Homo sapiens: one gene and its partners. The protein of the gene in region 2 purifies or fractionates together with the protein of the main gene of each other region. This does not show direct contact. Each region holds a gene or a part of one and is shown on either strand. Other genes may lie near its edges. The genes, in order: TRIP12, SERINC5, MYCBP2, WWP1, TRIM25, RIGI and TRIM40.

What was found.
Region 1: the proteins of SERINC5 (region 2) and TRIP12 purify together in Homo sapiens (affinity purification with mass spectrometry, with the first as the bait; one large-scale study listed by BioGRID). This does not show direct contact.
Region 3: the proteins of SERINC5 (region 2) and MYCBP2 purify together in Homo sapiens (affinity purification with mass spectrometry, with the first as the bait; one large-scale study listed by BioGRID). This does not show direct contact.
Region 4: the proteins of SERINC5 (region 2) and WWP1 purify together in Homo sapiens (affinity purification with mass spectrometry, with the first as the bait; one large-scale study listed by BioGRID). This does not show direct contact.
Region 5: the proteins of SERINC5 (region 2) and TRIM25 purify together in Homo sapiens (affinity purification with mass spectrometry, with the first as the bait; one large-scale study listed by BioGRID). This does not show direct contact.
Region 6: the proteins of SERINC5 (region 2) and RIGI purify together in Homo sapiens (affinity purification with western blotting, with the first as the bait; one study listed by BioGRID). This does not show direct contact.
Region 7: the proteins of SERINC5 (region 2) and TRIM40 purify together in Homo sapiens (affinity purification with western blotting, with the first as the bait; one study listed by BioGRID). This does not show direct contact.

The regions. Positions count from the first base shown.
Region 1 is NC_000002.12:229,855,647-229,859,861, reverse strand, and holds part of TRIP12 (E3 ubiquitin-protein ligase TRIP12), read left to right. Parts: intron 1-287; coding exon 288-1,090; intron 1,091-4,215. UniProt on the Homo sapiens protein: E3 ubiquitin-protein ligase involved in ubiquitin fusion degradation (UFD) pathway and regulation of DNA repair.
Region 2 is NC_000005.10:80,249,236-80,253,450, reverse strand, and holds part of SERINC5 (serine incorporator 5), read left to right. Parts: intron 1-4,215.
Region 3 is NC_000013.11:77,043,938-77,048,121, reverse strand, and holds the end of MYCBP2 (E3 ubiquitin-protein ligase MYCBP2), read left to right. Parts: intron 1-2,628; coding exon 2,629-2,744; 3' UTR 2,745-3,465; downstream 3,466-4,184. UniProt on the Homo sapiens protein: Atypical E3 ubiquitin-protein ligase which specifically mediates ubiquitination of threonine and serine residues on target proteins, instead of ubiquitinating lysine residues.
Region 4 is NC_000008.11:86,411,474-86,415,688, forward strand, and holds part of WWP1 (NEDD4-like E3 ubiquitin-protein ligase WWP1), read left to right. Parts: intron 1-64; coding exon 65-401; intron 402-4,215. UniProt on the Homo sapiens protein: E3 ubiquitin-protein ligase which accepts ubiquitin from an E2 ubiquitin-conjugating enzyme in the form of a thioester and then directly transfers the ubiquitin to targeted substrates.
Region 5 is NC_000017.11:56,907,507-56,911,721, forward strand, and holds part of TRIM25 (E3 ubiquitin/ISG15 ligase TRIM25), read right to left. Parts: intron 1,058-4,215; coding exon 962-1,057; intron 1-961.
Region 6 is NC_000009.12:32,484,475-32,488,689, reverse strand, and holds part of RIGI (antiviral innate immune response receptor RIG-I), read left to right. Parts: intron 1-486; coding exon 487-745; intron 746-1,056; coding exon 1,057-1,219; intron 1,220-3,410; coding exon 3,411-3,515; intron 3,516-3,546; exon of another isoform or gene 3,547-4,215.
Region 7 is NC_000006.12:30,138,758-30,142,972, forward strand, and holds part of TRIM40 (E3 ubiquitin ligase TRIM40), read left to right. Parts: intron 1-4,215. UniProt on the Homo sapiens protein: E3 ubiquitin-protein ligase that plays a role in the limitation of the innate immune response. Mediates inhibition of the RLR signaling pathway by ubiquitinating RIGI and IFIH1 receptors, leading to their proteasomal degradation.

The DNA of each region.
Region 1 (4,215 bases), on a different chromosome or scaffold from region 2:
TTTTTCTTGTAATCTTAATTCTTGTTTTGTGATTACGAGTGTTAGTGTCAGTAATCTTTGGGCTAAAGAACACCCTTATCTTTTAATCAGATATTTTAGTATCCAAAGTCACATCTGCTTTTGTTTTGTTCTTTTATTTCGTTTTACAGATTTGAACCTTCTGAAAACCTATGTTTAATACTGGACTTAGTAGGAACATATTCATACTTTATTTTTTGAAAGCATTATATATGACAGTTGTAATTATGACAGGCTGATATTAACTGTTTTCTTATCTAACCTCTTAGAAGCTGCAGTTCATCATCTGCTGTGATAGTTCCACAACCAGAGGATCCAGACAGAGCCAATACTTCAGAAAGACAAAAAACGGGGCAGGTGCCTAAGAAAGACAATTCTCGAGGAGTGAAGCGCAGTGCTAGTCCAGACTACAACAGGACCAATTCTCCTAGCTCTGCAAAAAAACCAAAAGCACTTCAGCATACTGAATCTCCCTCAGAAACAAATAAGCCACATAGTAAGTCAAAGAAGAGACATTTAGACCAGGAGCAACAACTGAAATCTGCACAATCACCATCAACAAGCAAGGCTCATACCAGGAAGAGTGGGGCCACTGGCGGTTCACGGAGTCAGAAAAGAAAAAGGACAGAGAGTTCTTGTGTAAAGAGTGGCTCCGGGTCTGAATCAACTGGTGCAGAAGAGAGATCTGCGAAACCTACCAAGCTGGCTTCAAAATCAGCCACCTCAGCCAAAGCTGGGTGTAGCACCATCACTGATTCTTCTTCTGCTGCCTCTACTTCCTCCTCGTCTTCTGCTGTAGCCTCGGCCTCCTCCACTGTACCACCAGGTGCCAGAGTGAAACAAGGAAAAGATCAGAACAAGGCCAGGCGTTCCCGTTCAGCGTCCAGTCCCAGCCCCAGAAGAAGTAGCAGGGAAAAGGAACAGAGTAAAACTGGTGGCTCTTCAAAATTTGATTGGGCTGCTCGTTTCAGCCCTAAAGTTAGCCTTCCTAAAACAAAACTGTCTCTTCCAGGGTCTTCTAAGTCAGAGACATCAAAACCTGGACCTTCTGGATTACAGGCCAAATTAGCAAGTAAGTTTACAAAAAGGTATTTTTCTTTAATTAAAGAAAGTTTCTCTTGGTTTGTCAAAAGCAATTATGCTTTAAAGTTAAGGGTTTTTTCCCCCCAGTCTTAGATAATCTTAGATGTATTACTGTCTGTGTAATTAAGTACATAACAGCATGTAGTAAGTGCTACTACATTTAGTTTTGTTGAGACAGGTAAGGAATACTACCTTCCTATTATTACGAAACCATCACATTTTAGTGTCTGTGTCTTTATTGGTCCTCGCGGCATCTCCTACTTCACTGATTTCCTAATATCAGGATGGGACATAAAGTTGGATTTTCTTCTATACCACATACAAAATTATCATTTAGTTAGGAGTTCTTTTTAGTTATGAGTTGCCATGATCAGAGATCAAATATATATATGTTTTTTTAGATGGAGTCTCACTCTGTCGCCTAGGCTGGAGTGCAGTGGCGCAGTCTCGGCTCACTGCAACCTCCGCCTCCTGGGCTTAAGCAATCCTCTTGCCTTGGCCTCCAGAGTAACTGGGATTACAAGTGTGCACACCATGCCTGGGTAATTTTTGTGTTTTTAGTAGAGATGGGGTTTCACTGTGTTGGCCACGTTGGTCTCAAACTTCTGACCTCAAGTGATCTGCTCACCTCGGCCTCCCAAAGTGTGGGGATTACAGGTGTGAGCTACCATGCCTGGCCAAATATATTTTTTTATATGAGATATTCTTGATGTGTAGATACAGTGAATTAAGTTATTACTATAAATATACCTCAATGTAAATTAAACTTTTTCATATGTAATATCTCACAGTCTTTTAAGGAGTTTTGTCTAAAGATGAATACTACTTATGTTTCACTACTCTTATATACACTACTCTGTGTCCTAAGTGAGTAAGAATATTGCTCTCTAAAAGTTTACAGTGGAGTAGAAAGAATTTGTGTTTTGAGAATACATTCAAGCAAAGAAACAGAAAGTAGATGGAAGAAACATAGCGTTATGTGCATTCCTTCATGAGTCAGTTTTGGAGATATCCAGGAACTCTTCTCCCTCTCTCTTTACCAAAAGACTTCTTCAGGGAACCAGCTGCTCATCTGGGGAATGCTAGTGTCTTTCTTTTCTTTCCTCCCTTCTTTTTTTTTTTTGAGACAGAGTCTCACTCTGTTGCCCAGGATGGAGTAGTGGTGTGAGTGGTACGATCTTGGCTCACTGCAACCTCCACCTCCTGGGTTCAAGCAATTCTCCTGTCTCAGCCTCTCCTGAGTAGCTGAGATTACAAGTGTGCGCCATCACACCCAGCTAATTTTTGTATTTTTAGTAGAGAGGGAGTTTCACCATGTTGGTCAGGCTGGTCTTGAACTGGGACAAGTGATCCACCTGTCCCAGCCTCCCAAAGTGTTGGGATTATAAGTGTGAGCCACTGTGCCCAGGCTTCTTTCCTTATTTCTATTTCAGAAACCTATAAAGGACAAATAGGATAATAAAGCACTTATCTCTACAATTTTTAAAAGCATTTTAATTTTATAATACCTAATTAGGAAGCTTGCTTTTAAGCATCTTTTCTTCTCTGATGGATTTTAGATCTACATTTGGGTAGGGCTATAATGTTTTCTTGGTTTAAAAAGATTGTATATAGTGTCTACTAGCATTCTTGTCAAAGTATAGCTCATATTGAATCAGCCTAACTTAAAATTGAATCAGAACTATTAGCTCTGTTTAATTTAACACTGCAGTCTAAAACTACTTTTGGTTGATTCACATATTACCTGAAATGACAATACTATTAATAGTAGGTACTATATAAAAAATTTTATGTTTAACCTGTATGATAGGTTATTGTGAAGTAACATATTTTACTTTTAGATTGAACTTTGTTCTGTTTTGGTATTTTAAATATGCAGAACATCTGTATAAAATGTTTTAAGTTTAAAGGATTAAGATAGGCTAGATCAGTATCTTGAAGTGAGAAGGAAAAAAAGGTCCAAGTTAAAAGGACAACCAACTATTTGTCCTTCCAATGCTTTATTGATAATTGGAGTTACATATGTCAGCTTTTATGCTGCCTTTCCTCCCTGTGTTTTGTGTCTGTCAGTCCTGCTATGTAATATTCACAGCCAGTGAGCCAGGTTGAGTTTACAGCAAGCTGCTTAGGATTCACTTCCCCTTCTGCCTTCCAGTCTGCCTCACTTGAAGAACTCATCTCTTATGTGTAGGAGGGTTCTAGGGCCAGGCAATAGCAGATTGTACTTGAGTGTCATGGCCTTGGTCCTTTGTAGAGATCAGCTTTCTTTTCTTTATATAGTCTGTTAACTTGATTTTTAAAAGAAAACCCAACTCTACCAGTGGCTAATCAGTGGGATTTTCTCCTTGGTGTTTCAATCAGGAAACACCAAGAGTTTTGGCAGTGTCATTTTGCTGCTGGTTTGATAAAACCAATCCAGATAATTCCATTAAGCCTGCTCAGCACATAGTCACAAACTAATTTAGTATTTTAAAACTCATTTCACCATTATTTCATTCACTTGCACAGTATCTGTGTTCTGTTGTCACTATTAAATCACTTTTCCGTTTTCACTGCCACTATCCCAGTTCTGATCTCTCATCGTAGCCTAAGCTGTTGAAACAAGAGAATGGAACCAGCGTTTGTGTAGCATAAAATAAGTACCAGGTATTTTACATATGCAGTTACATATTCTTTTAAAAAAAATGGTGCTTTAGGATACACTTTTTTTTTTTTTTTTCTGAGACAGAGTCTTGCTGTATTACCCAGGCTGGAGTGTGTGTAGTGGCGCAGTTGGCTCACCGCAACCTCTACCTCCCAGGTTCGGGCAATTCTCGTGCCTCAGCCTCCCAAGTAGCTGGGATTACAGGCGCATGCCACCATGCTTGGCTAATTTTTGTATTTAAGAGACAGGGTTTCGCCATATTGACCAGGCTGGTCTCGAACTCCCGACTTCAGGTGATCTGCCCGCCTCAGCCTTCCAAAGTGCTGGGATTACAGGCCTGAGCCACCATGCCCAGCCTAGGATAGTTATCAAGGAAATGTATTCCAAGGAGATGAAATAACTTCTCTGAGTAATATACCTCATACTTGGCAGAGTTAGGATTTGAAGATGGGGGTAGTAGGTGTGACCTT
Region 2 (4,215 bases):
AGACTGGACTGTAACGGGCTAGAGTGGAGGTGAGGAAAGCAGTTCGAGTTGGTCATGAAGCAGTTGGTGAGGAAAACCTAAGTGGATATTTGCCTCTTAGGGGCAAGCAGTGTTCTAGGCTTCGGCAGTGAACAAAAATCCTTTCCTGATGGAGCTCGAATCCTGGCAATCTGCTGTTGCTGTAGTCCCAGGAGGAGACAGCGTGGTACCTTAATTTAGGCTATGGCTGTAGGAGTGAGTACAGTGGGACATCATTGGCTTTGGGTATATTTCAGAGGTAGAACTGGATTTGAGCAAGGATTAGAAGTGGGATGTGGGAATGAGACAGGCTCGGTTTCTGGCCTGAGCCACTGGGTAGATGATGATCGCATTACTGAGGTGAAGTAGGAAATTGTTAGGAAGAGGACATTTGGTGAGGAAAACCCAAGTTTCTTGGCTTCGTTACATTAGAGATGCCTATTATAAATTTAATGGAAATGGCAAGTCACCAATTAGGTATTTAGGTCGGGAGAAGTTTGAGGTCGGAGAGAGACATTTTGGTGACTTTCTTTAACTGCGGACCATCCTGAACAATATGTAACCCATAAAAGAGCCTGGGCTTTGGACTCAGGCCTGGGTTTCAATTTGGAAATCTGGACAATGAGGACTGGTGTGACTGGATGAGTTACTTACCCTCTATGACCTCATTTTACCTCAACTATTGAATGGGTACTTCTTAGGGTTATTGGGAAAATTACATGTGATGATAAGTGTAAAGTCTGTAATATAGGATTTGGCAGAGTGTGAGGAACCCCCCAAATCTTATTAGTGGCCATTACCCATCTGCATCAGGATAATATCCAGATCAGCTTATTTTATTTTTGTATCTACTCTGATATTCACTTTGGTTTTGCTTAGGCTGTTGGCTAATGGATGCTAAGAAAGTAGAGATTACAGGGGAGTGGTCACTCAACACTTTATGGGTTCAAAGTTCTGTGCTAGGCCCCTAGAGACACGGTAATGAACACAGGGCTTCCTTGTTCTCCTTTAACTTAAGGGCTATGTGGAGGTGGGAGTGTTGGGGGAAGTTAGCTACAGAAAATGACAGTGCAGGCTGGGCATGGTGGCTCTTGCCTGTAATCCCAGCACTTTGGGAGGCCGAGGCAGGTGGATCGCTTGAGGCCAGGAGTTCGAGACCAGCCTGGGCAACATGGTGAAACCCTGTCTCTACTAAAACAAAAATTAGCCAGGCGTGATGGTGCACGACCTGTATTCCCAGCTACTTGGGAGGCTGAGGCACCAGAATCACTTGAACTTGGAAGGTGCAGGTTGCAGTGAGCTGATATTGAGCACTGCACCCTAGCCTGAGCAACAGAGTGAGACGCTGTCTCAAAAAAAAAAAAAAAAAAAAAAGGAAAAGAAAAGAAAATGACAGTGCTCACTGTCAGAGCGGAAGTGAGGTGTGTGCTTGGAAAATCTAGACAACCTTTCCAAGGCAGTTTGACAATAGGGATTGGGAGGGCTTGCTGCAGGCAAGTATAGGCATTTATGACAATAATAATGCTGAAATTAATAGGCTTCTTGCCTGAAAAGTTCACCCGAGGCAGATGCGCCAACATTCTAGTAGGCAAGACTCAGCTAATGTCTGGTTGGTGGGCAGCCAAGACTATTGCACCAGGAGGATCAAGCCTGTGGTTGCCATTCTGAGTAAAGGTTCACTCTGTCTTTTTTTTTTTTTTTTTGAGACAGCGTCTCATTCTGTCACCCAGGCTGGAGTGCAGTGGCGCAATCTTGGCTCCCTGCAACCTCCGCCTCCCGGGTCCAAGCGATTCTCCTGCCTCAGCCTCCTGAATAGCTGGGATTACAGGCACTTGCCACTACATCTGGCTAATTTTTGCATTTTCAGTAGAGATGGGGTTTTGTCATCTTGGCCAGGCTGGTCTCGAACTCCTGACCTCAGGTGACCCGCCCGCCTCTGCCTCCCAAAGTGCTGGGATTACAGGCATGAGCTACTGCGCCGGCCCTATTCACTCTATCTTTATAGCCAGTTTATGCAAGGCAGGAATGCCCAGGCCCAGGTATTTCCAGCCAGATCCTATTTCTAGATCACCAAGATTTTCCTCAATGAAAACCCATGTATGTATGTATGTATGTATGTATGTATGTATGTATGTATGTATGCATGTATGTATTTAAAGATGGGATCTAGCTCTTGCCCAGGCTGGATTGCAGTGGCTCAATCATAGCTCACTGCAGCCTCCAACTCCTGGGGTCAAGCAATCTTTCTGCTTCAGCCTCCCAAGTAGCTGGGACTACAGGTGCGTTCTACCATGCCTGGCCAGTTTTTAAAAATTTTTGTAGAGACTGGGTCTGGCTTTGCTGCCCAGGCTAGTAAAACTCATTTCTGATGTCCGTTATGTTAATTAACAAAGCCTTGAATGCCACCAGGAACTATCCATCATCAAAGATAAACAAAGCGGGACATTAGTTAAAGCAGTAAAAACACGTTTATTCAGTAACTATTGACTGTAGGGGAAAGAGCTGAGCTCCATTCGATTTTGTGCAGAGGTGACTAGGCCTTTTAAAGTGAGCATAAGGGAGTAAGGAGGGGAGTGAGCGGTGGCTCAAGAGTCAGGAAAGTGAAAAGTTACAAAGGGTTGGTCGCTGTAAATGCAATTAGGCCAGCTGTGTGGCCTTTGATTAAATGTTTGCTGGAATAGGGGTCTTATCAGGGCAACTGATGCCCCTATAATGCAGCTTAAAACACACACCCACATACACAGAGTCCATGAAGAAGACTTATTTAAAAAATAAATTACACACCACATACAATAATGATGATTCCAGGCCGGGCATGGTGGCTCACGCCTATAATCCCAGCACTTTGGGAGGCTCAGGTGGGCGGAGTTCGAGACCAGCCTGGCCAACATGGCGAAACCCTGTCTCTACTAAAAATATAAAAATTAACTGGGCGTGATGGCATATGCCTGTAATCCCAGCTACTCAGGAGGCTGAGGCAGGAGAGTCGCTTGAACCTGGGAGGCTGAAGTTGCTGTGAGCCAAGATCATGGCACTTCACTCCAGCTTGGGCAAGACAGCGAGACTCCGTTTCAAAAAATAATAATAATGATGATGTTTCCCCCAAAATGTCCTTCCTTCTTCACTGTAAAACCCAAATCTCTACTTTGAGGTCCCAGCTCAATTAATGTTTCCTCAGTAATGATCTTTCTCTTGTTTTGAGAGTCCTCACAGAATTTCTGCTTCGTGGACTTGATTGCACCACTTAGTACTGGGTCATCTGATGCATTGGAATTAAATCCTGGCTACTGCAAGGATGTTTCCTCTCTTCTTATAAGCAGAGCACTTATTGTGACCTAGCTGAACCCCCTGTTGAGCTCTTTTGGTTACAGAACTCTTGTTCCCTATTGCTCTTTGTTTATAGTGATTGGAAATGTTAGGTCCTCATTATATTACATGGTGCTTCCACTGGAAGGGATCCAATTACAAAAATTCATTATTTCCATGATGATACTTTTTTGAACAATGTGGGAAGTATTTGTGAAACAGAGGGAAATCACACATATCATTACCCAGAGAGAACCACATTTTGATGCTTTATAGTCAGTTACTTATATTTAATATTTATTATTTTATTTTTTTTTATTTTTGAGACAGAGTTTTCGCTCTTGTTGCCGAGGCTGGAGTGCAATGGCGTGATCTTGGCTCACTGCAACCTCCGCCTCCCAGGTTCAAGCAGTTCTCCTGCCTCAGTCTCCTGAGTAGCTGGGATTACAGGTGCCCGCCACCACGCCCAGCTAATTTTGTGTTTTTAGTAGAGATGGGGTTTCCCCATGTTGGCTAGGCTGGTCTTGAACTCCTGATCTCAGGTGATCTGCCCGCCTCAGCCTCCCAAAGTGCTGGTATTACAGGACTGAGCCACTGTGCCCGGCCGATATTTATAATTTTACTTTGCAAAGTTGGGATTTTGTTGGAAGTGCTGTATTTGATCCCACTCTTTTTGCATAATTATGAGGTGACTGATAAAGTTTTTTTTAACATGCACCCACCACTTATTGTAGCTGTTAATGTTTTCTGGGTTTACATTCATATGTAGATAGTCTTCTACCTTCAAACTTGATGGTTTCTTTTTTTTTTTGGAGACAGAGTCTCGCTGTGTTGCCCAGGCTGGAGTGCAGTGGTGCGATCTCGGCTCACTGCAAGCTCCGCCTCCCAGGT
Region 3 (4,184 bases), on a different chromosome or scaffold from region 2:
CACCATAACATTGGTGTTAATGTTGTAGTCTCAGCAGTGCACCAAGATATAACAGTCTCTCATTGTCTGAGATAATGCCAGGAGTTCTTTGTCCTACCTCCAAGAAGATTAAGGAGCACAGATACAAAGGTGAGGTTAGAGCGAAAGTTTAATAAGCAAAAGAAGAAAGCTCTCTGCCAGCAGAGAGGGGGGCCCAAACAGGATGCTCCCGTGAGGCTGGGGCCCAGGGTTTTTATGGACTGGAAAGGGGAAGGAATGTGCTTAGTCTGTGGGCTGTCTTGGCCCGCAGCGTGACTCAGCTTGGCCCGGGACCCTGGCCCAGGAACCCACTGGAGCCCACTGTGCCTATGCCCACAAAAGGAGAGAGCCCCCTGACTATACAAAGGACAAAGGCATTTCTATCCCAGGTCTTGTCCTTTATCTGATTGAAGGTTTTTCTGTCTGTGCAGCCGTGGGCATGTCTTTAGGCACAATGCCCTGTGCTAGTTCCCTCATCGGTGCCTGCAGCTTGACTTTTTTTCCCCAACTGCTTTTTATGTTATATGGGGATGAGGCACTGACCTGTGGACCTGGGGCTCTCTGGGGACCCTTCCCTTGCTATCTACCTAAGGCAAACTAACTCCTTTCATTAACACGTCAGTATATAAATTTGGAGGAGCACAAAAACATCCAGACCATAGCATAATCCCTCTATCCATTTCTTTCTAAAATATTTATTGACTACCTTCTCGTGCCAGGATACTTAATCTTCACAGCACCCCATGAGTTAGGTATTGCTGTGTCTATTTTAAAGATGAGGTATCTAAGAATCAGAAAAAATAATTTTACTTCAGTTTCATATCTACAAAATGAGGATAATCGTTTCTGCCTCCTATGACTGTTAAATGGTTAAGTAGCTGATATACTAGAACAGTGCCTCAGTAGTAAGCACTCAGATGTTTGCAGGTGTGTTTTCACTATTTTTATTTCTCACCACCATGTTGGATTGTGAACACCTTGAAGATGGGAGCCATGCACTTTTCATCTTTAATCCCAAGTACCTAAGAATGCCCTTCATATATTAGGCATGCGGTAAATATTTGTTGAGTAAATGACTCATTTTTTCCTTGAAAAAACCCAAGGGCTGCAGTTTGTGTCACCACCATTGATATGTTGTGTATCTGAACTAGATCTGCCATTGAGTGTCCCCATCCTGCGCACTCTCCCCCACCCACTGGTGGGGTGGGCACCAATCTGCAGTGTGATTTGGAGCAGGAGCTACTGAACTACTTTCTAACAGGAATAATTAACTTTCTAGCAAACCTCTGGCATCCTCCCATGCTGACCCATCCTGAGGTCTGTGCCTGCATTTGTCTGAGGTGGCACTCATTGCCACTCTCATGCCTGTTAGCTCTAACCTGAAGTTGACTTCTCTGAGATTAGCTGTCTTCAGTTTGACACTCTAATGTCTTGGTCTTACTCTTGTACAGAACTTACTTTTTATTCCTCTAGATCAGGCCTCAGTTTGTGGTTGTTCAGTAATAGTAGTAATAGCCAACATTTATTGGGTATTATACTGTGCAGTCTAAGAGCTTTATAAATGCTAGCCTTTTATCCATCATGGTTTCCTTCTCTTATGTCAGAAATGTTTTTAAACCTAGAAAAGGTAAAGTAAATGAGACGTCATTCCTCATTGATCAGTGTAAGCTCATTCCATCCAATCTCGTGATATTTTTCTCTCAAGCACAATCAGAATTTAGATTTATTATTTTGAAAACTAGCTGTAGAAAACTAATGCAGAGTTCCTATTCCTTCATCTACTATTAAATAGGGACTCTGCTTTCAAGTATAAGCCTAGCGTGTTTTTCTGACAAAGTAAGCCTCCTGGTTTCTAAAGGAACTAAAAATCTTTTCTAAATGATATGAAACCCATGACGTGAAGCACATTAATATAATAATTTTCTTTTTTAAAATACTGTTTTTGGTACATTTGATAGGCCTACTTTGATTATTATCAACAAATTCATATCTTCCCCAAAGTGTTTTTTCCACATTGTATTTTATAACATTGTTCATGTTTTTAACCTGATAACTTTCATTTTCCTGCTAATATCCTTCAGGTACTTTTAAAAATTACAGGAATCATTGGCCTTCCCATTTTACCAGTGTGGGCTTTTTCATCAGTAAAAATAAAAGGGAAAACATGGCTTCTTTAAACTTAAATGTTTTTACTTATAGAAAAACATTCTACACAAAAATCTCCCTGTTTTCTATTCAGAAAAATAATGTTCTGCCAGACTAAATTGAGGGGTTTTGTGACCTTTTTTGTTCATTACTCTGTTTTAAAATGATATATCTGATGCATTTATTAATAGAAAAAGATCTGTAGCTCGAAGTGATCCTCTCTAGGCAGGATATAGTGAGTAAGGGACCCCATCACTTCTTCCATTGTACATATCTGTGTTGAATTTTTTATAGTGAACATTTTTTACTTTTGTGATCAGAAGAAAAATTTCTAAATGTTATATTTGTATAACCATAGTCATGTTATTTCTTTGAATAACCTATCAGTGATTTATATTTCTGTGAGGTTTATATGTGTGTATTCTTAAAACATTATTTTCCTTTGCCTCCTTCAAATTTATACAGGTCCCAAAGGCAAGCAGTTAGAAGGAACTGAATGTCCACTCCATGTTGTTCATCCACCCACTGGGGAAGAGTTTGCTCTGGGATGTGGAGTGTGCAGAAATGCCCACACTTTTTAGAACACGCAGATCCTTTGTCTACAGAGAGAAAAATTGCCTTCATCCCCCAAGAGGATGCGGTGAAGTTTAAACTCTGCTCAGGATAAGGACGGGACCATTTTTACATCCATGAAAATGAACCATTCACAGTGCAAGAAGGATACCAAATACCATGTACATAATTCTTGCTATGAAAAGTTTCCCCATTATTTTGGTTTATCTTCTTTTGAACAAATGACATCAAACTTGTGAGGTGTTTGCATGTGGCCATTACCGTCATTGGCCTGTGAAGCATTGGACATTTATAGATAATTGATATAAAAGAATCGCCATGCCCATGGACTAAGAACGATGCTGGCTTTCAAGCAAAAAAGAAAAATAATCATTGTTTATTGTATACTGCCTTTTTGTAATCCTGTACAATTGCATCACGGGTGGGGATAAAAAGAGGAATATTCTGGTTTATTTCCTAGACTGTTATTTAAAAAAAAAAAAAACATTGTGTTAGGACAGCATATAAATGTAATAAGTATCACACTGTATATAAACATATCAATGTTTGTCCTGTATAAGAATTACTAAATTACAAATGCAATTTCATTTAAACTTCTAGGTTAAGTTTGAGCCTGAAATTTTAATGAAGTGCAATACTGAGTGTGCCTCATTATCTTGCAGCTGTAAACATATTGGAATGTACATGTCAATAAAACCACTGTACATTTTTATACAGTGATAAAGTCTACCACTGTGGGAGGTATTGTTTAAAAAACAAAATTTGAACACCTTTAAGGTCTAAAAGTCCAGTTTTCCTCAGAAAGAAATTTACTAACACAACACATTCATAATTTTCAAAACTGTTAGAGAAAATAAGAATAGTAATGAAGTGCAATGTTGGAATCTTAAACCCTAAGCAGAAGATCATAAATATATATATATATATTCGTAGGTAAATATATTCATACCAAAGACAGAAGAAAGCATTTAGGAAATTAACTTCTATTTTAACTAGCAGCATTTTTAACTTTATTTATTTATTTATGAGACAGGGTCTTACACTGTCACCCAGGCTGGAGTACAGCGGCGTGATCTCAGCTCACTGCAGCCTCCAACTGGGCTCAAGCGATCCTCCAGCCTCAGCCCCCTGAGTAGTTGGGACTACAGGCATGCACCAGCACCATGCCCAGCTAATTTTGTAATTTTTGTAGAGATGGGGTTTTGCCATGTTGCCGAGGCTGGTCTCAAACTCCTAGACTCAAGCAATCCCCACTGCTTTGGCCTCCCAAAGTGCTAGGATTACAGGCGTGAGCCATTGCACCCAGCCCCTTTTTGAAGTTCATATAAAGTAATAAAATCACTAATTTTTTATTCATTTTCTATAGACAACGGTGTGTTTAGGTACATCTTTTTGACACTCGAGTCATGAAATTGCCAAATTATTGATTGTTGACTCATCATACATCA
Region 4 (4,215 bases), on a different chromosome or scaffold from region 2:
TGATTAGGTAATTGATTGCTTTATCATTACTTGATAGATGATTTTATTAATTTTCCCTTCTCAGTTAATGGAGAATCATCCTCATTTGCACCAACTGATAATGCGTCTGTCACGGGTACTCCAGTAGTGTCTGAAGAAAATGCCTTGTCTCCAAATTGCACTAGTACTACTGTTGAAGATCCTCCAGTTCAAGAAATACTGACTTCCTCAGAAAACAATGAATGTATTCCTTCTACCAGTGCAGAATTGGAATCTGAAGCTAGAAGTATATTAGAGCCTGACACCTCTAATTCTAGAAGTAGTTCTGCTTTTGAAGCAGCCAAATCAAGACAGCCAGATGGGTGTATGGATCCTGTACGGCAGCAGTCTGGGAATGCCAACACAGAAACCTTGCCATCAGGGTATGTTAAGCTTTTTAATGTCTGACTTGCATTTAAGTAGCAACTCTGTTAACATACGATTATTGAATGTGTGCATAAAATGTTTTCATTGTTCAGAACTTTGAAATCTAAGTTGGGATCTGAATCATACTATTTATTTACTTGCTACAAAACAAGTACTTTTTGAAACTAAGAACAATTGCTCATCTGGTTGACATATATGTAGTACGAAGGGAAAAGAAAAAACCTGATGTTAATTAGCAAGACCCTCTTAATTTGATTCTTGGTTTATTTCTACTTTTCGTAAGAGTGACCATGATACTCCATATAATATCCTCAGTTCTCTGGCATCCTTGGTGATCTGTTTTCCAGACCTCATACTGGAGAGCAAATAGCTCTTCTTTTCCTCAGCTAATATTGAGTGCTGGGGAGTCACAAACCTTGCTGATTGGCTCTATTAAAAATGCAGTTTTTCATTGCTGGTTAGTAATTCTTAATCTCTTTTAAGTTTCTCATTATAATTACTCAACTTCCCATGATTTTCTTTAAAGAGTATTCTATATGTGTATTCCATTCGGTAATTTCTTTGACCTTTGGCACTGATAATACTAATATTAATTAATGATTAATTGTCTCTGCCTTCAAGAAGCTTATTTAGTGATTCACAGTTGTAAACGTGTACAGTATATACAGTACAGTCAGAAAGTATATATGGACACGTGCTTTCCAACACAGTTTACAGTGATCAGAATGTCAACTGTTGTAGCTATTGAAACTGCACTTCTAGATGTCTCTACACTATTGTCTTCATTTTGTTACCTCAGTCACTATGTTAGTGTACGTTGGTTTTTTTTTTGGAATTGTTTTTTTTTTTCTCAGTGCCCTTTACTGGCTCGTCTGATGTTGTCCACTGCTTAATTACGGTTTCAGCCTTTGGTCTTCCTTTGTGTGCTTACCCCAGTAGATCTAGCACTCTCCATTATTATTATTTTGGAGCAGAGTTTCATTCTTGTTGGCCAGGCTAGAGTGCAATGGCACGATCTTGGCTCACTGCAACTTCCGCCTCCCAGGTTCAAGTGAGTCTGCTGCCTTAGCCTCCCAAGTGGCTGGGATTAGAGGCACCCGCCACTATGCCCAGCTAATTTTTGTATTTTTAGTAGAGACGGGGTTTTTCCATGTTGGTCAGGCTGGTCTCGAACTCCTGACCTCATGATCCACCCGCCTTGCTTCCCAAAGTGCTGGGATTACAGGTGTGAGCCACCATGCCTGGCCAGCTCTCCATCATTTTAACTATTAAATCTATATGTTCAGGCCAGACTTTTCTTTGAGCTTATTTTCAACTACTTTTCCCTCTTCTGTTTCCTGGAAATGTTTCAGACCCTATATTAGCTTTCCTTTCCCTCTCAAAAATCTCTTGTCCTGTGTCCCATGTTTGGTAAATTAGTCAATTATCCTAGTCTCTCATGTGCCAGTCACTGTGGCAAAGACATATAAGAAGCTGTTCTTACTGTCAAGAACCTCATCGTCTAAGTGGTGGGGGAGGGGAAGAGAAGTAGACAATCAGCCAGCATACAGTACAATTAAAGCTATGCCAGAGGTAAGTTTAGGATGCCATGACAAGGAATACATGCAGAGAAGGAATGGGAGGAGTTACCTGCGCCGTTGACGTCAAAGAATACTTTCGAAAGCTATGACACGTCAGTGGATTCTGAAAGAAGAGGAGGAGTTAGCAAATAGTGGAGGCACGAGTGGTGAAAATTTCATTTTCAGTAGAGCCGACTGCACATTCAGATTCCTAGCACCCATGAAAATGAGTATGCTGAACCCAGGAATTATTATTTTGTTATAGTTTGAGTTCAGCATTTGAGGCAGCAAGATATATAATGCTGAAGAGAAAACAGCCCTGTGAAGAATTTTGTGTGATTTCGAAGGGTTTGGAAGTTTTTTCTGAAAACCACGAATAAGCATTAAAGAATGTAAAGCAGGGGAGTGGCATAATCCTCTTTGCTTTTATTAAGATCATTTTTGCAGTGGTATAGACAGCTGAGGAGTTAAGGAGTTGGGATAGCAGCCAGGCTGTTTTATAAATGAGGGAAGCCGGCATTCCAGTTCAAAACAGTAAGTACATAAACCTAATTCTGTTGAGACCAGATAAATGCTTCAGCAGACTTGTTGTCACCACTTATGATCTTTGTATTAGAATTTTGCAGTAATCTATATTAGTGTTTTTCAAATTGTAGAGTGCAACCCGTTAATAGGTTATGACCAGCATTTGAACACATAATGAAATAAAGAAATATAGGCGAGAATAGGAAATATTGGAAGATGTTAAATGTAGTAAGAATAAGCATTGTTTCCTGAAAGTTTGTTTTTCTGTGTGTGTGTGTGTGTGTGTATGTGTGTGTATGTAAGTAAAATCAGTAGATAAATAGCAATCTGGTATACACAGAGATATTTATATAAAACACACTTCTTACTGTGTAAACTGTGGTCAAAAAAAGTTTAAAAGCCACTAATCCAGGGGAGAAATTAAGAGAGCCTGAAGTGAGGTAAATGCTAATATTTTAGGTTGACATAAGATGGGTCTTGATAAGTTGTGGGGAGATAGAATAGAAAAAGAGTGGAACCAAGGTGGATTCTTCTGGCATACACAGCACCAGGCTGTGTAACCCTTTGAGTCAGCAGTTTTCAACTCCACATCATCTTCCCTCTTTGCTTAAAAATCTTACCTTAGTTCCTGTGTTTTCTTTTGTTTGGTAACTTACTGAGTCATTTAGCTAACAACAGGATAGGACTATGGGTGCCTCAATCCTGTTGATTGTAATGTACAGCCAAGTTGAGAACTGCTACTTCAAGTTCTTTTGTTAACCCTTTACTCTCCACATTTTTTAATTCACTTTATATAGAGATATGTAGATGAAATAAAAAAATTCTGTGTATCAAAATCTAAAGTATGCATCAGTGAAAAATTGGACAGTGTATTAATATTGAGTACTTTTCAGAGAGATTAAAAATACATTCTGAATCCCCCCCCCATCCCCCCACCCCCGCCCCTAAATAGCGATTAGGCAACTGGGTCATGGCATATTTGACTGAAATAATGATAGAATGTTGGACTTAGGGTAGGAGAGTGATGAGAAAGTGTTCTGTATTTTGTAGGGCATCCAGTTGATATATGTACCTCATGCCGTATACCAAGGAGGCAGTTATATGTACAGTTCCAGAACTGAAGAAGAATATTCTAGCCTGGAGATAACATTTGAGTGTTATGCCAAGCACGATTTTGCCTAAAGAACTTTGCATGTGCTCTTTTATGTATTCTCAAATATACTCAGGTTTTGTTAAAATGTTACCTCATTCCAGAGGTGTTTTTTGAGTCTCCTGTCCAAATCAAGCCAGTTTCCCCACATTTCCGTATCCTGCTTTATTTTCCCCAACATTTTATGTTGAAAATTTACAAATGTACAGAAAATTATAATTTTGCAGTGAAAACCCATACACTTCCCACTAGATTTTACAATTGACCCTTTATTGTGCTTGCCTTATCTCATCTCTTCATCTCTTCATCCATCTGATTTTTAGTGCATTTCAATGAGTTGCAGACATCAATATGTTTTGCCCCTCAACACTTCAGCTTGCAAATCATTAACTGGAATTCAATATGTTTTAAAATTTTTTTAGATAAAGATGACAAAGAAAGAAAAACACGAGTCTTGAATGTACCATTATGATGAATTTTGGCAAATGCGTATGTCTGTGTAACTCAAATCTTTATCGAGATACAGAACATTAATATCACCCTAGAAAGTTGTGATTCTGAGGCAATCAATATTCT
Region 5 (4,215 bases), on a different chromosome or scaffold from region 2:
CAATAAAACTGGTGCTGCAGCTCTGAAAAAGGGTAAAAATCTGATCTTTCCATTTAAAAGCAATTTAAACGTATCGAAAATCTGAAAAACAGGGGGAACAAAACCATTCCTAATTTACCACTCCAACACTTCCACTATGATCCTTCTATAATATTCCCTTTCAGTTTCTTTCCATGCTCTCTGTAATGGGTTGAATGCTGGGCCCCCAAAAGACATGTCCATATACCAGAACCTGTGACTGTAATCTTACTTAGGAAAGAGGTCTTTGCAGATGCAATTAAAGATCTTGAGATTCGATCATCATAGATTACCTAGGTGCTCCCTAAATCCAATGACAAGGGTTCTTATTGGAGATGGAAGACACTAAGGGAAGAAGAGACAGGTATGTGAAGACAGAGGCAGAGATCAGAGTGATGCAGTCAAAAGCCAAGGAATGCCTGAGCCACCAGAAACTGTAAGAAGCAAAGAAGGGTTCTCCCCTAGAGACTTCGGGAGTGTGGCCACGCCAACATCTTGATTTTGGACTTCTGGCCTCCAGAACTCTGCCAGAATACATTTCTGTTGTTGTAAGCCACCAAGTTTCTGGCAATTTGTCACAGTAGCCCTATGAAACTAATATACTTCCTTTTTGTAAATAGATGCAACCCTATGAGCTATATACTTTTGCTTCCTCTTTTTCTCCCACTTTATATCATAACCATTTTTCTGAATTACTACTTTTTAATCCTAATTTATAATGATTTCCCCCACAGTTGGGCTTATAGGTAATTTTTGGTTTGGGTTTGCAAAGGATCTCTCTCAGACACACAGCTGTCTGCATGCTTTGCAAGGTTGATGTTTCATCCTGACACTGTGAGTGCACCCAACACCAGCCTTGTCATGGTCAGAGCCACGCCCATCCCGCGTGGAAGCTGAGCGAAGCCACAGGGCAGGGCTGGCCTTGGAGAGCCCTGCCACTCACCCGCACATCCTGCTGCCTGTTTCTCACATCATCCAGTGCTCTCGACGCCCCGTTGATCTGACTGTACATGACAGTTAGTTTGTGCCTCAGGGTGGCCTGCAGGGAAAACAAATGAGGTTGAGAATGCACCTCTTCAGCCCAGCCCCACCAGAAGCCATCCCTGGAACTATCCCACAGGATAGATTCCTTCCTCTTCCACTCCACCCAAGTCTTGCCACCCCAAGTCCTGTCACCCGAGTCTTGCCTGCTTGGAGCTTTTTGAAGCATTCTAATACTTACTACTTCCCTTCATCCTTTTCAGAGGACAGTACAGACCAGGGTTCCAGTCCCAACTCCCAGCTGTGCAACTGTGTCCTTCACCTCAGTTTTCTTGGACACAAAATAGATACAACTGTCCCCAGCTCACAGGGCTATTGGGAGGATTAATTGAAACAATGTAAGTACTCAGCCCAATGCCTGGATCTTAGGAAAAACATACTAAATGCCAGCTTATATTATTATGAGTTTTTCTCTAATTACCCATTTTACAGCCAATGAAACTCAAGCAAGGAGGACAGAAAGGTGGCCAAGCTCACACAGGAACAGAACGAGCTGGGACAGCTGCTTCGGTAATGGCAGGTGGGGCCACTCAGACCAATCCTCCCACTGCAAACAGCCAGGAAAGCAGTCCAAATAATGGGGCAGCGGGGAGATCTGCTAAAAGATGCTGGAGAGCCAATCAAGCAGAGGATTAAGAAGTCAAGGTCCAGGAGAAGGGGGAAGGGGGCCCAGAGAGATAAGCCTGATATCTAGGATGTTCTCTCCAGAGGCATCTGCCAATCCCAGAACAAGGCTGGGAGCCTTTGTCAGCCTCACAGGGCAGGGAGACAGAAATCAGAGTCCAAGGCTCACTGCAGACTGGGACCACCAAGGGCTGGGAATAAGATGAATCAGCCAGCCAGGCGCAGTGGCTCATGCCTGTAATCCTAGCACTTTAGGAGGCCCAGGCAGGTGGATCATTTGCTCTCAGGAGTTCGAGACCAGCTTGGGCAACATGGCAAAACCCTGTCTCTACTAAAAATACAAAAATTAGCCAGGTGTGGTGGTGCACACCTGTAGTCCCAGCTACTTAGGGGGCTGAGGCAGGAGGATCGCTTGATTCCGGGAGGTTGAGCCTGCAGTGAGCTGAGATGGCATCACTGCACTCCAGCCTGGGTGACAAAGTGAGACCCTGTCTCAAAAAAAAAAAAAAAAAGATGAAGTAGCTCACAGGGGCTGAAGCCCAGGTGCAAATCTGCTCAGTCCTAGCCACCTCCAGAAACAAAGGCAAACTGTATATGAAGGAAGCTAATATCCTCATCTGATTTCAATTAATTTTCATAATCAATATCTGAGTCTCCTACCTCCCTGCTCAGATGAATACTGCACAGAAATGGGAAGGAAAATCACCACCACCATAACAGCAGCAGCCAGTATTTATTATGCACTTACTGTATGCCAGGCACTGTTCTAGTGCTTTACCTGTATTAACTTACTTAAAGCTAAGAACAACACTATGAGGTAGGAATTACCCAGCCTTTACAGACAAGGACACTGAGGCACAGAACAATTAAGTGACTTGCCCCAGCTACACTACTAGTAACTGGCACAGCTAAGATCCCGATATTAAAATCATAGACACATGCCCAAACTGAGCATGCTGGAGATTTCTAGAAAAAAAAAATTTCCTTCCCGTAACTAGCAGGCTCAACATACTCTGGCTCTCTCTTCCACTTCCCAGACTCTTCAACTCCACCCAAGATATTCTGGGCGGAACCTGATCTTGAATCTAGATTTGAACAACCCAGTGACAGTCACATGTAGGGGTTGGAGGCAGGGACCAAGGCCACACTAACTCAATCCGAAAAGCCCAAGCTGCTCATGATGTTTCAAACTTGACCTCTGTGACACTGCCCTTCGACCTGGCCTCTAACAGTGGCCAAGATAAGGTGTGGGCCAAAGACCAGGCCTACATACATCCGGCCTTGCTGGCCTCAGAGCAAGAAGAGACCTCAGAACACCCCAAGGCTGCCAACTGCTTCACTTTCAAGAGCTGCTCATAGCACTACACCCTGAGCCCTATATTTTGAAAGATTTGATACACCATTAATCAAACACATGCGGCAGTACCCTCATCATGAATGGTGCCCACACGACTCCAGACCAAAGGAAAGTGACCCAAAAACTTTGGTAGCAGCAATAATCCCCTAATCAAAGGCAAAGGACTTTTTGAAATCCTGAGGATCCCTTCACAGACTAGAGACTTGGGTCTTCCACATGGGAGGCACCAGAGTCTCAAGTCCGACCCCACCAGTGGCCAAGGCAACCCAGCCCCCGAGGCTAAGGGCATTGCCCAGCTGAGACTGGCTCTGCCAACAGTGATGAGCAGCAGTAGCAGGGCTCAAAAAGCAGACCTGTTATAGGACTCAGCAAGTCAGGACAGGGGGGTAGGTGTTGGCAGAGGAAGGCCTGTTGTTAGGATTAAACAGCAGAGTTTAGGCCAGGCTCCTGGCTCACGCCTGTAATCCCAGCACTTCAGGAGGCTGAAGTGGGAGGATCCCTTGAGGTTGGGAGTTCAAGACCAGCCTGGACAACATAGTGAGATCCCGTCTCTACAAAAAATGTTTTAAAATATTAGCTGGGTGTGGTGGTGCGTGCTTGTAGTCCTAGCTACTCAGGAGGCTGAGGCAGGAGGATCACCTGAGTCCAGGGTTTAAGGTTATAGTGAGCTATGATCATGCTACTGTAGTCCAGCCTGGGTGACTGAGTGAAAACCTGTCTCTAAAAGAAAAGATTAAAAAATATATATATATGGGCCGGGCGTGGTGGCTCACGCTTGTAATCCCAGCACTTTGGGAGGCCGAGGCGGGTGGATCACAAGGGCAGGAATTCGAGACCAGCCTGGCCAACATGGTGAAACTCAGTCTCTACTAAAAATACAAAAATTAGCTGGGCATGGTGGCGCAGGCCTGTAGTCCCAGCTGCTCGGGAGGTTGAGGCAGGAGAATCGCTTGAACTCGGGAGGTGGAGGTTGCAGTGAGCCGAGACCGCACCACTGCACTCCAGCCTGGCGACAGAACAAGACTCCAACTCAAAAAAAAAAAAAAATTCTGATTTTATAGCCAGGCCCCATGGTAGCACACCTGTAGTTCCAGCTACTCAGGAGGCTAAGATGGGAGAAGGATTGAGGCCAGGAGTTCAAGACCAGCCTGAGCAACATAGTGAGATCCCATCTT
Region 6 (4,215 bases), on a different chromosome or scaffold from region 2:
TAATTGATGTGTTTTCTGTTTTGTTTTTGACAAATGATTTAAAAAAATTTATATTAGATTCAGCTTTTTTATAATCCAGATGTTATCCCTTCATGGATTCAAGTCTTTTTTGTTAGATGTACCAGAAAACTTAAACTCCCCTGGTTTGCCCTTCTATGGGGAGTAAATGACTTCAGGAATAAATTTGATGTTTACGTGGCACATTTAACTTCTTTAGTGATTTTATAATTTATTTGATATTATTCTTTTACGTACTCTTTTCTCTCTTAGTGACTTAAAATAATATATAGTACTATAAATTACAACTAGCTTGGATTTATTGATCTCTTACTATGTGTCAGGCTCTGTGCTAAGGACTTGCCTACAGCTATTCTTCTTTTGGACTCAGGGAGAATTTAATCAGTTGATGTTCTGATCTAGCATTTCATCTTTGTGGTTCCTTATCCACATCGTGGTTAGTAATATGGAATTTCTGTCATTTCCCAGGTATAGAGTTACAGGCATTTCTGGAGCAACAGCTGAGAATGTCCCAGTGGAACAGATTGTTGAGAACAATGACATCATCATTTTAACTCCACAGATTCTTGTGAACAACCTTAAAAAGGGAACGATTCCATCACTATCCATCTTTACTTTGATGATATTTGATGAATGCCACAACACTAGTAAACAACACCCGTACAATATGATCATGTTTAATTATCTAGATCAGAAACTTGGAGGATCTTCAGGCCCACTGCCCCAGGTATCTCCAAAGTCAGACGAATGCTTCAGAAGAGCTATAATCTTCCTAACTCCTATTTTCTTACTCTTATGGCCACACTGAAGATGTCCTTCTCAGGTCCCAAGTCCATATTGTACAACTCATTATGAATTTTGTTTCCTTTATTCATTTGTTCACTTAGTAAATATGCATTATGTGCCTCCATGTGCCATACACTGTGTGTTAGTAAAAACAAAAAAACGCCCTACCCCAGCAGGAAAGAGTTATATGAGGGGTTGTGGAAACATTGTACCATTTCTCAGACATCTAATGATTTTGAATGCTCCTTACAGGTCATTGGGCTGACTGCCTCGGTTGGTGTTGGGGATGCCAAAAACACAGATGAAGCCTTGGATTATATCTGCAAGCTGTGTGCTTCTCTTGATGCGTCAGTGATAGCAACAGTCAAACACAATCTGGAGGAACTGGAGCAAGTTGTTTATAAGCCCCAGAAGTGTAAGTTGGATCCAATAACAAGCCTTTGAGATTCTGTTACTCTCTACTACCTCTAGTTCAGAGCCATCTAGACGAATACTGAACTTTGACCCTCTCTCTGTTTAGTAGAAAATATTTAACCTTGAACTTGAGTAACAGTCACATTTTTTAGCCTCTCTAACTGAGCTCTCATCCCAAGCAATGGATGAACCTCAGAAGTGGCCTGTAGAGAGCAAACATTCTTCCTCTTTGCTTCCAAAAACCTCTTATAAATGTACTAGCAATGCAAAAGAGGTGATGAGAGAATTTAGGCATCAGATAGCCAAGAGCTGGGCTCACTCAGCCTTTTCCCATGCTCTGTGCCTGTGTGGTCATCACTGTTTGAATATGTATTTGATCATTTTAGTTGAAATGGAATGATCTGAATTCATGATGTCACTCCTCCAAAGATCAGATATGATTTTTTAATATGACTAACAGTTGTTTATTGATGTTATTATTACACTAACCCTGAAAGGAAGAGAGGGATACAGAAAATATATATGACTTCACCCTTGCTCTCTGAGTAGTATGTGACTGTATTTCTGAGGTAGAACAAATAGACATGTAATAGGGAGTGGTGTAGATAAGTTCCTTTTTGAAGGCTGCTTGTAAGTAAGGATTTTGATGTACCTGATCCCAACTTTTCAGTGTCACATATGAATTTCTTTACAATCCGGTTCCTCCTGCCCTCTGAGCTTCATCACCTCCAAACATTCATAAACCCAACCATGTTGCATTCCTCTGGGCTCCTCAATCATGCCGTGTGCTTTCTCTCTCCCACCTTTTGTCTGTGCTTCCTTTGTACATCACTGCTCTTTTTTTTTTTTCTTTTTCTTTGCCAAGTTGTGATGGAATATACATGACTACTCTTGCTTTCTTCTTTCTTCTTCCTGTATTTATTCTACAACTCTGACTTCCCTGGAAGAATTAGGTGTTACTTTCCCTGTGTTTTGTGACACTTTGCGTGTACTACTTCTTTTTTTTTTTTTTTTTTTTGAGACAGAGTCTCGTGCTGTTGCCCAGGCTGGAGTGCAGTGGTGCGATCTCGGCTCACTGCAAACCTCCACCTCCTGGGTTCAAGTGATTCTCCTGCCTCAGTCTCCTGAGTAGCTGGAATTACAAGCGTGTGCCATCACGCCTGGCTAATTTTTTGTATTTTTAGTACAGACAGGGTTTCACCATGTTGGCCAGGCTGGTCTTGAATTCCTGACCTCAAGTGATCCACCCTCCTCGGCCTCCCAAAGTGTTAGGATTACAGGTGTGAGCCACCACACCCGGCTACACTTTACATGTACTTCTGTTAGAGAACTGCTACGGTTAGTTAGCCATGTATATTTCTCTCCCTTAAGATCACAGCCCTGTATGGAGCATGAAGTGTGTTCTTTCAACTGTCTATAATCAAAGCATGGCACATTGCAGGCAATTAATAATTAGGCTGAAATAATATATTGATAAATGGTAGGATCAGTGTGAATACTGCTGGGAGCTGTGTGGGGAGGGAGAATATCAAAGCACAGAGACAGGGTTAGATTGTGGCACTTGCAGAGACATGAGAGATGCCCGCCTCATCAGAGAGGAGGTAACAGGACAGCCACAGTAAGAAGCTGGTTAGGCCGGGTGCGGTGGATCACGCTTGTAATCCCAGCACTTTGGGAGGCCAAGGCGGGTGGGTCACCAGCTCAGGAGTTCGAGACCAGCCTGGCCAATATGGTGAAGCCCCGTCTCTACTAAAAATACAAAAATTAGCTGGGCATGGTGGTGTGCGCCTGTTGTCCCAGCTACTTGGGAGGCTGAGGCAGAAGAATCACTTGAACCTGGGAGACGGAGGTTGCAGTGAGCCGAGATCGCGCCACTGTACTCCAGCCTGGGTGACACAGTGAGACTTGGTCTCAATCAAAAAAAAAAAAAAAAAAAAAAAGAAGCTAGTTAGACCTACACCATGAAAGACAGGTGTTAGAATCAGTACAAGAAGCAACAGGGAGCCATTGCATTTTGAGCATTTGTTGTATCATCTGGACCACCTGCCAGTTAGCCTGGAACCTTAGGTTTTTCAGAGGAAGTATCAAAGGCAGAGAAAGGTTTTAGAGATACCTACTTTGAACTACAATCTGTCCTTCCTGAAAATATACTCACTCTTTTTTTCTTTTTCTTTTTTTTTTGACGTCTCTAGTTTTCAGGAAAGTGGAATCACGGATTAGCGACAAATTTAAATACATCATAGCTCAGCTGATGAGGGACACAGAGAGTCTGGCAAAGAGAATCTGCAAAGACCTCGGTGAGATAAATCTCATATTTTGTGTTCTCTCTACTGGGGAATAGCCATTTATTGTTCACTATCGTCTTTTTGTGTTCTCCTTAGTTCAGACAATGTCAAGACCATATCCAGAGGTTGTCTTCCTTGATTATAGGTTATTTAGGAGCCTTATATGTCCTCCTCTATTCTTTCTTTCTTCCTTTTTTTCCTTTTAAATCCAAAGTAAGTTCATCCAGACACATGCACCTGAAAAATAACCATACTTAAGTCAGTTCATTGCTTTCTCTACCTTCTAAATCAGCTTTCCCTCCTGACTTTCCTGTTCACCTGAATGAAACCACCATTCCTCTACTGGCTCAGATTTATATCTAGGGACAATCACCCAGCACATTTCCCAGCATTAAAGGAGTGCGACTAGAGATGGGCCAGGGGAAGACAGTGAAGGGCCTGGATTTGAATTTTATCCTAAAAACAATGGGGAAAAAAGTGAAGATTAAAACTGATTAGTGACGTAATAAAGATACCAGTGAATGAGAAGGACCAAAGAGAGGCAGTAGAGATGGATTGGAGAAGGAAGGAGACACATGTGAGATGCTTCCAACTGTGAGTGTTATGATTGAATGGCTAAACGGATTTGGGTGGGGATGAGAAAGGGGCAGGAGGGGCTGATTTCCCCCCAGGCATCTGGCTTAGGCACCTCTATGAATGCCAGTGGGTGGTC
Region 7 (4,215 bases), on a different chromosome or scaffold from region 2:
CATGGCATCCTTCTATCCAATAGTGAAGGCTGAACTTCCAAAGCTGAGGTAGCTTTGAGATACTTGACTTTTGGAGAACATGTTATGATACAGAATGAGAAAGTGGGGAGTCCAGATTAAAAGTGACTACAGAAAGGTAGAGAAATAATTGAAAAAGCCAGAGGCAAAGTTCTATTTGGTTCTAACATCATTCCCTCCAGGTGCAATGTCCACAGGAGAGTGGGGAGGGATTCCTCACCTGCCGATGAAGCAGCATAAGATGGAGAAATTTATTTCCTCACTAAATGATTTTTTCAGGTCTGTCCTTTGTGTTAGATGTCATGCTAGGCATTGTAGAAAGTACAAAGATGATTCATAATTCTTGTTTCAAATCTGTCTTTAAATAATGACAAGAAAGCTAAAACAAATAAATAACGATGACACTTGTTCATTAAGTAAAAACTTAGTAAGTTCCTGCTGTGTGTGAGAAACTGCAGCATGTGCTAGGAATCAATGAAGACAGATGCCATTCCTTCTGCCAGGAGTTTGCAGTGTAGTAAGGGAGACACAAATAAGTAATCAAAGAACTGTAACTTTTTTTTCTTTTTTTTTTTTTTTTTTTTTTGAGATGGAGTCTCATTCTGTCACCCAAGCTGGAGAGCAGTGGCATGATCTCGGCTCACTGCAACCTCCGTCTCCCAGGTTCAAGCAATTCTTTGCCTCAGCCTCCCGAGTAGCTGGGATTACAGGCACCCACCACCAGGCCTAGCTAATTTTTGTATTTTTAGTAGAAACAGGGTTTCACCATCTTGGCCAGGCTGGTCTTGAACTCCTGACCTCATGATCCATCTGCGCTGGCCTCCCAAAAGAACTGTAACTTTTTATTAGTTAGGAAGAAAATAAACAAGGGTCTGGGATGAACAGTAATGGGTGGCCCATGTCCATTTGGTCAGTGAGGGCCTCATAGAGGAAGTGACCTTGAAGCTGAGGGCTGGCAGAAGAGAAATCAACCTGCAAAGACAGGGGGTAGGGAGTGCATACAGATGCCCACACCTGAGAAGTCTTGTTATATTTGAAGAATTTATCATTAGAGTTTGAATCGACAGGACTTACTGAGAGATTAGAAGTGGGTTCTTTGTAAGAAAAAAACAACCCCATCAAAAAGTGGGCAAAGGATATGAACAGACGCTTCTCAAAAGAAGACATTTATGCAACCAACAGACATATGAAAAAATGCTCATCATCACTGGTCTTTAGAGAAATGCAAATCAAAACCACAATGAGATACCATCTCTGCCAGTTAGAATGGCAATCATTAAAAAGTCAGTAAACAACAGATTCTGGAGACGAAGTGGAGAAATAGGAACGCTTTTACACTGTTGGTGGGAGTGTAAATTAGTTCAACCATTGTGGAAGACAGTGTGGTGATTCCTCAAGGATCTAAAACCAGAAATACCATTTGACCCAGCAATCCCATTACTGGGTATATACCCAAAGGATTATAAATCATTCTACTATAAAGACACATGCACACGTATGTTTATTGTGGCATGGTTCACAATAGCAAAGACTTGGAACCAACCCAAATGCCCATCAACGATAGACTGGATAAAGAAAATATGGCACATATACACCATGGAATACTATGCAGCCATAAAAACAGATGAGTTCACGTCCTTTACAGGGACGTGGATGAAGATGGAAACCATCATTCTCAGCAAACTAACACAAGATCAGAAAACCAAACACCACATGTTCTCACTCGTAAGTGAGAGTTGAACAATGAGAACACGTGGACACAGGGAGGGGAATATCACACACCAGGGCCTGTGAGGGGATGGGGGGTAGGGGAGGGATAGCATTAGGAGAAATACCTAACGTGGATGACGGTTTGATGGGTGCAGCAAACCACCATGGCACGTGTATACCTATGTAACAAACCTGCATGTTCTGTCCATGTGCCCCAGAACTTAAAGTATATATATTTTAAAAAGTGGGTTGAAGGAAGGAGGAAGGTCAAAGATGACTTCATGAGTTTCTGGTTTGAGAAACTGAATAGATGATGTGAAAGATAATAACTTGGTAGAACAGGTTTGAATGCAACACCAAGAGTTTCATTTAAGACAAGTTGAGTCCAAGTTGAGACACATCAAAATAGGATCTTACATACGCAGCTGGATCACAAATTTAGATCTCCAGAGTCTTATTCCTAGAACCTAGAACAAAGATCCATCCAGGCAAAGACAATATTTAAATCCAAGAAAAGCGGGCACGGTGGCTCACACCTGTAGTCCCAGCACTTTGGGAGGCCAAAGTGGGAGGATCGCTTGAGCCCAGGAGTTCAAGACCAGCTTAGGCAACACAGTGAGATACTATCTCTAGAACAACAACAGCAACAACAAAGTGAAATTAACAGGATTTAAAAAAAAGAACGTGACAATTTGGGGCTGGGTGCAGTGGCTCACGCCTGTGGTCCCAGCTACTTGGAAGGTTGAGGTGGGAGGATTGCTTGAGCCCAAGAGAGTGAGGCTGGAGTGAGCTGTGATTGTGCCACTGCACTGCAGCCAGGAAGACAGAGCAAGACCCTGTCTCAAACAAAGAAACAAACAACCAAGAAACCAAGGAAACTGATGTAATTGCCTCAAAAGAGGCTAGACAGAAAAAGAAGTTTTGGGGTAAGGTTCTGGGAAAGGCCGTCATTTAGATGTAGGCAGAGGAGGACCCAGCAAAGGAGACAGGATGAGTTGCCAGAAAGGCAGGAGAAAAACAAGGGGAATGGTGCCCCAGCTGCTAAGAGAGAAGGGTATTTTAAGAGATTATAATAGATTGCATTGAACAATGCTAACACTTCAGTAAGATGGTGGCAGAGGCATGAGAGCTGAGTTGGGAGGAGGCACACTTCTTCCATAGTAATAACAGGGAACAAGAGAAGGTGTCTGCAAGCCTACATAGTTTTGCAGTTTTGGAAATCCAGGTTTTGTTCTGGTTTTTATTTTCTCATAATATTTGAGGAAGGAACATCAGCAGTATGGGTGGGATCAGGATGGATGTGAAAGGTTTGAAAAGAAACAAGATGGTGTGATGCAGTGTGGGAGAGCGCTTACAAGAGAAACTATGTAGGGTTGGCAGACAGTATGTAGCACCAATTTGAGGTCTGAAATGTTTAACATGTTTCAGGAGGCTGCCTGAGGACAGACAGCAAACAAGAAGGTGATGGTACATTTTACCATGGATAAGGAGTTGTCTGAAAAGTAACACAGAGAGGGAGGGTAAGGGAGTTGAGTATATTTCTGAAGAAGTGATTATAATGGTGGACCTTATGTGTACTCATGGATATTGACAGCGTAATTTTGAAATTAAGGAGGGTTTTTTTTTACTGATTTTTTCACCATATCTCTATTTATTTGAATTAAACTTTGTAGTTAAGTATTGTAAATTTTGTTCTTTTAAAAGAATCATATAATCCCTGACTGTACTCTAAAAAGACCGAAAAATTTATAAAATCTACAAATTCTTATTTGTATACCTGTTTCCTCACTGACCAGTCAATGTCAGTGTCAATCACTTTAATGTATTTTGCTGGTTTAGTAAGTGTGTGACAGTGATGTACGTTGTTTTACTTTGCTTGATTATGAATGCTAGTAGTGGTGAGGCTTTTATCCATGAAGACTCGCTGTCTGCATTTTCCCCTAGAATCAGGGCATAAATTCTACATGATTGCATCAAAATAGTTTATCTTTTGGATAATGAGCTCCATTAGTTGTGTTTGTTTAACCTACATTTTTTTATTCTGTTATTTCTTCTTAATTATATTTTTGGGCAACTTTTTAGAAATTTGCATTTAAATTGGCTCTATTCTTTTTTATAATATAATCTCCATGTCTTAAATACACAGAAATTTGTTTAATATGAGTGTGCTGCTCTGTTTTATTTTTAAAGGTTTATTAATTCCTGGCTTACTTGGAATTTCATATAGTATGTTGTGTGAAGGATGACTCCACGTTAATTTTCCTTTATTCTGGTATCCAGTTGTTCCCAAAATATTTATATAACAGTGAGTCCTTTCCACATTTACGTGTTGTTTCTCGCTTGACATCAATTAAGTTCTCATGATGGGCTGTTTTTTTTTTACTCTAGTCCATTGATTATTCTTTCTGTTATATAGTTTTGACAACATGTTACTTTATGGTTTATTTTTAAATCTAGCAGCATTTTTGCCATTTAATAATTTTATTA